Regions from separate parts of the Homo sapiens genome. Here region 1 is linked to region 2. The links come from fine-mapping of genetic effects on gene expression. A gene starts in region 2. The other region holds a variant in brackets. All regions are shown on one strand. Distances are from middle to middle.

Region 1 (2,832 bases), 150 kb before region 2:
TGCCTTTCTCTTGGTGTTTTCTTTCTTGTATTTAAACTCCTATTTCTGTTTTTTAAATGCTGCTTTCTCTGGGAGATGATATGTGTAAGAAGAGCATTTACTATTTGGTATTATTTACACCGTTACTACTACTGGTAGAATAAATAATTATACTCAGATCAGAAATCAGCACTACACAGAAAACCCTTAAAATTGGTGCTTTCATGTCTGAAAATTTTCCTCTTCAAAAATGTAGCCATCCTTAAAGGGAACTGAGAGGTAACTGTGTATAATGTTGTATATTTTTGATTTATAAAGTAGCCTTGTATAGTGGAATATCTGCAGAGGCCAAGTAAAAGAAGTGAAGGACTAAGACAGGAATATCAAGGATTGTGGTCGGTGGAGAGCTCAACTTGGAAATCTCCAGAGAACAAGAATGCAGCAAGACTAAATAGTAATATCAATAACTGTTCTTGTTTTGTTTATTTTTGTTTTCAGAGTAGCTGTGCTATGTGTTTCCAGATCTGCTTATTGTTTGGGTTCAAGCCACCCCAGAGGATTCCTTGCTATGAAAATGCGGCATTTGAATGCAATGGGTTTTCATGTGATCTTGGTGAGAAAAAAATGCAAATGAAATATTCTTTAATTACTGATGTACATTCTAACAGCTGCCAGGAATCTTGTGGTTGAGACTGGTTACTAGGACTAGAGGAATTGTCAGCATTATTGGAATGAGTGCTTTAGTTACTGTTTTCTTTGAAAAAGAACATTGCTAGTACACGATTTGGGTTCTGCTCAGCTGATTACTGTCATTACTAGAGCTTTTACAAATGTTGTTCTGGTCAGCTTTAATCCTTTTTTGCTAAGAAGAAGAATGCAAATAATATATTTTCATATTTAAGATACACAAAACCATATTTAATTTCCAGGTTATCTTGAACAAGGGAAGGAAAGATGTTAAAGCTTTGTTTTCATGGCCTGTGTGAAGCTGTTACAGGATGTTTGTTGCCAGAAAAGGCTGGATGGTTTTAAGAAGATGGGTCTTTCTCTTCCCTCTTATGCTTCAATTTTATTTTGTACCCCACAGCTTCTCTTGAACAGCCTCTTCTGATGTTTCTAGGTAGTAGGAACCTTACAAATACATTTATATATATGTTGCTGTTGGAATCTATCTAAATGCCACTCATTTGGTCCTGCGCATAATGTAAGATGTAAACATTCCAAGTCTTCTATTATTATACTTTAGTATTGGAAATGGATTACGTGTGGACTATTGAGATTAAGATGACTCCTTTCTCTTAGTGGGCTACTATTTAAGACTTTGTTTTTTATATTGCTGATTATATATATTCTAAGGAAGATTTTCTCAAGAAAGCAGTTTTTGCACCATTTAGAGGACCTTTAAAATTTGTATAATTTTCACAGTTAAAGCTTTCTTAAACCCTAGCATGTAGTCTTATTATGCCTTTAAAATATGAGTAGTTATAAGGTCACATTTGCTTTCAAAAAGCTATTGTCCTCATGTTACTTTACTATGTTTGGATCTCTAAACTAGCTCTTTTGTTAGTATCGTCTCACAAACTGATTATTTTCCTCTTTCTTTGGTAAGGTCA[A/G]TAACTGGGAGATGGACAAACTAGAGATGGAAGATGCAGTCACATTTTTGAAGACTAAAATCTATTCAGTAGAAGCTCTTCCTGTTGCTGCTGTAAATGTGCAAAGCACACAATAAAGTGAAAATCAACCTTTTCATATTAGGAGACATGCATTTGTAAAAATTAATAAAGATGACAAGTCAGTTGTCAATGGAATTGAGCTATCTGCTAAGACAAAAAATGTTACCTCAGTTCACTATTAAAATTAATTTTAGGAGTGGAAGAAATGTTGTTACTGCCATTTAAAAATATGCTGAGAAAATTCCAGAAGGGTTATTTTTCCAACCACACCTATTCCCTCTAGTGCCCAGATATTTGATTTGTGAGCTGTACGTTTCACCTTTTCATCTTTGATCTACTAAAAACTGGTTTCTTAGTTGTGAGGTGTCACAGGCAGGTTGATGTGGGTAGTAGTCCTTGTCTTTGGAATCTGAATATTTATACTCCTGCTCTAAGCTGTTCTAAGACTTGGGGTTATGCCTTTAAATCATTTTCAAGCATTGGCCAAATAATAATTGGACAAAGTTCTAAAGTTGTCAAGTGTGTAAGAATTAGTGAGGTAGCTGTTGAAAATGAGTGAGGATGGTATTTGTATTTGTAATAAGCACTGCAGGTAGAGATATTTCATGGGTTATAATAAGAGAAACACAGATGAGATGTAGATGGTAAGGAGTCTTACTGTTGTTGGGGTCCTTCCTTTCTCTTTCTTTTTTCCCCCTTACCCCTCCCACAATTTCATGAAGTCTTTTAAATTAAATATATAGCTGAATTGTGTTGTGAATCAGACCTGAGGACTATTTTTTCGATTATGTGTGTTCATTCTTTGTTCAAATATTTGTCCAAATTCAACTATTTTGTTCAATATGCCTGTCTACCTAGTATTTGGCTCGCTGGGGATATAGTGATGAATAGGCATGGTCTCTTGTGGAACTTACAGCATGGGTTCCATGCAAGTTGGTGTTATTCTGCCCCCAAGCACACAGACATGCAATTACTAGACATCTTAGTATGTGCCGGGCACTGCTAAGTATTCATTTGTGTGCTGCCTTTTCATGATCTGAACCCTTTGAGGTGTAGCTGCTATTATGATTCTCTCTGTGTCTTCACTTCCTCATCTCTAAAATCAGGATAGGTATTTGCCCAAGGCTACACAGAGTAGGGGAGGGCTGGAGTTTGAATGTGAGCTAACATAGGCTTATAA
Region 2 (2,828 bases):
CTAGATGAACTCCTCTAGCCCAGTGGCTTTAAACACCATCGTGATATTGTGATACAATAGGAAATACATATTTTGTCTTTGTCCCTGGTTCCTGACACAGAGCTCCTAAAACCCTTGGAATTTCCTCAGTGATAAGATCAATAAAGGTGAAAGGGCCATTTTTGTTATTCATGACGTCCCTTTTGACTATGTCTAAGTTTAAGTGAACAGGTAACTTTTGGAAAGTTTCTAAGGATAGCGGCTGGTTGCCAGGAGAATCAGCCATGTTATTCAGTAATCCCCTCCCATCTCTGGGGAGGAAAGAGGGACTGGAGATTTATTTAATCACCAATGACCAATGATATGATCAATCATACCTATGTAATGAAGTCTTCATAAAAACACAAGGGAACAGAGTTTGGAGAGCCTCTGGGTTGCTAAACACATGGAGGGACTGGGTGGATGGCATGCCTGGAGACAGCATGGAAGCGCTTATCTCCTCTAGTTTTTTAACTGCATTCTCTTTACTTGAAACTGTAACATTTGTTTGTATACTCGTTTATTTTTCTCTCAACTCTACTGTGAGTTCCATAAAAGAAGGGACTCTGCCTTGTTCACCCTTGTATCTTAAGTATCTAGCATAGTGTCTGGTATACAGTGGTACTCATGAGATTTTTGTAGAATGAATACATGAATACAGGGCAGAAGATTTAAACTGGGTCCCTAAATGCCAAGGACTCCATTTAAATACTCTACCTGCTCTGCGCTAAAGTTTGCCTTGCTCAGTTAGACTATTAGCAATGGTCTTAACATGAGTCTTTAATTTTACTGGTCAATGAGATTCAAGCATAACTTGGCTATGTCTGAAAACATGGCGGAGTATCTGACAGAGTCCTTCATGTAAGAGGGGCGTGGGGTAAAATCCACATGGGAAAGGATTGAAACTGTCTTCACTGCTCAGATTTGAAGAGATCTGGGTTTGTTTAAGAAGCTGGTGATGTGGTTCATCAGAAAAAGAGAAGGCATTTGACCCCAATCAAAGCCTTAGATTGAAGGAGGAAGTGGAGATTCTGAATAATGACCATGTCCATTTTGACCAGAGCAGAGTGTTCTTTCTGGTCTCATGAACAGGCTCATGATTCACAAAGACTAGCCTACTATTCCCATTCAACCTGTGTGAGGGGAAGAGCAGGAATGATTGCTCCTGAGCACGAGTGATGGGGGTTCCTAGAAATACTCCAAGGTGACTTTACATAGGGAGGAAATTTATTTCAGGATCTGGTGAAGTTGAGAGCTCACGTAAATTTGGTTTTAGAGAAGAAATGAAATATCAAATGGTACAGCATTTCCCACACTGGAAAAGGTGTTTGAGGACATGAGAGAGTTAATAAAGCAATTGCCCGTGACTTTCTGCTGAGACATCCACTAACTGATTTATCTCATCTTGATTGTGGGAGCCACAGTCTTGATGCATTCATTCTCAAGGACACTTGATCCACTGCCAGAGAGGCCCAGAATTTTCTAACTTACTGTGTGGCAGAATGAAGCCTCTGCTTGAAACCCTTTATCTTTTGGGGATGCTGGTTCCTGGAGGGCTGGGATATGATAGGTGAGTGTAAAGTGGGAAGAGGAACTGATTATTATAATTTAGATTGTCTAAATTGAATGGTTTCTTTTTAAGACCAATGCAGCTGGCTTCTCCTTCCTTGCTACTCATATATACCACCATGAGATGAGAATAATAAAGACCACTGAAATTTATCACTGAATAATCATAATCCTCTAATAATCCTTGAATAAATGAATAAATATCTAGCAAACATTTCCTAACACAATGCATGAGATATACAAATAGACATGTCATGTTTTGTGATTGGAAAAAGAAAATTGTAATACAAATTCTATATCCTTCATTTTCATAGTATCTCATTTGGTAAATCACATTATCCTAATTATTAAGAAAAATGTTAAAATGACCAAATAATTTCACCTAGAGATAAGTACTATTAATGTTTTCAGATAGCTACCTGATTATGTATGCAGCACTATTTCTGAAATATTTCACTTAAATTGTATTACAGAAATTTTCCTATGGCATTAGCAATTTATTTAAAACAGTTGAAATTGCTAATAATATTCTGTCATTTAGTCAATTCCTGCTTTTTCATTTTTACAAATAATGCTGTGATGAGCAACCAGCTACATAATTTTTTTTGCTTTTTGCAAATCTTTAATTATTTCTCTAAGAAGTGGAATTACTGGGTCAGTAACTGAGGAAAATGTAAGGATCTTGCTACACATTGCCCAATTACCCTCTAGAAAGATTACATCAGTCTACACTTCCAATAACAGTGTATGAAAGCACTTTTTAAGTGTTTGGCAAATTGACAAGTAAAAAATACACATTGTTGACTTCCTTTGTATTTTGTTGATTTATAAGAGTAAATATTTTATTACTAATTTTATCATTTTATAAATTGCCCATTAATGTCATTTGCCCATTTTTGTGGTCTCTCCCTACTCTTAATGAATCATAAGTTCTCTAAATACATTCTATTGAAATCTGTGTGTGTGTATGTGTGTGTGTATAGTTTCCATATAAAGTGTGTTTTTCCCTTGTTCATATGCAAATCATTATTTTGCTCATTTAGCATATCTCATGAAGTATATGTGGTTATAATTGGTATTTCCTCTTTTGCTTCATGGTTAAAGAAATCTTGCAATGAACTTGCTCTCACATAACATAGAAACCCACTCCAATTTTTGTCCCACAATAATTGTGTGACCTCAGCTTGTTCCTTATCTTCAGTTCAATTTCAGATACTTACAGAGTCCAGGATCTCTGTGAT

What was found. PIP is the estimated chance that this variant, and not a neighbour inherited with it, causes the effect. A credible set is the group of variants that fine-mapping cannot tell apart.
Region 1: its variant is the best candidate, but not a certain one, in a credible set for the expression of CPO in whole blood (TOPMed, PIP 0.87).

What each region holds. Positions count from the first base shown.
Region 1 is chr2:206,790,095-206,792,926 of GRCh38, forward strand. FASTKD2 (FAST kinase domains 2) reads left to right here. Exons shown (of 12, transcript NM_001136193.2): 11 at 478-592; 12 at 1,589-2,832. The coding sequence ends at 1,708. Among named protein-coding and RNA genes, the nearest start is that of MIR3130-1, 8.2 kb to the left of the region's middle. The variant A/G (reference allele first, on the strand shown) is at 1,593.
Region 2 is chr2:206,938,080-206,940,907 of GRCh38, forward strand. It overlaps CPO (carboxypeptidase O), which reads left to right and starts at 1,439. Exons shown (of 9, transcript NM_173077.3): 1 at 1,439-1,588. The coding sequence starts at 1,521.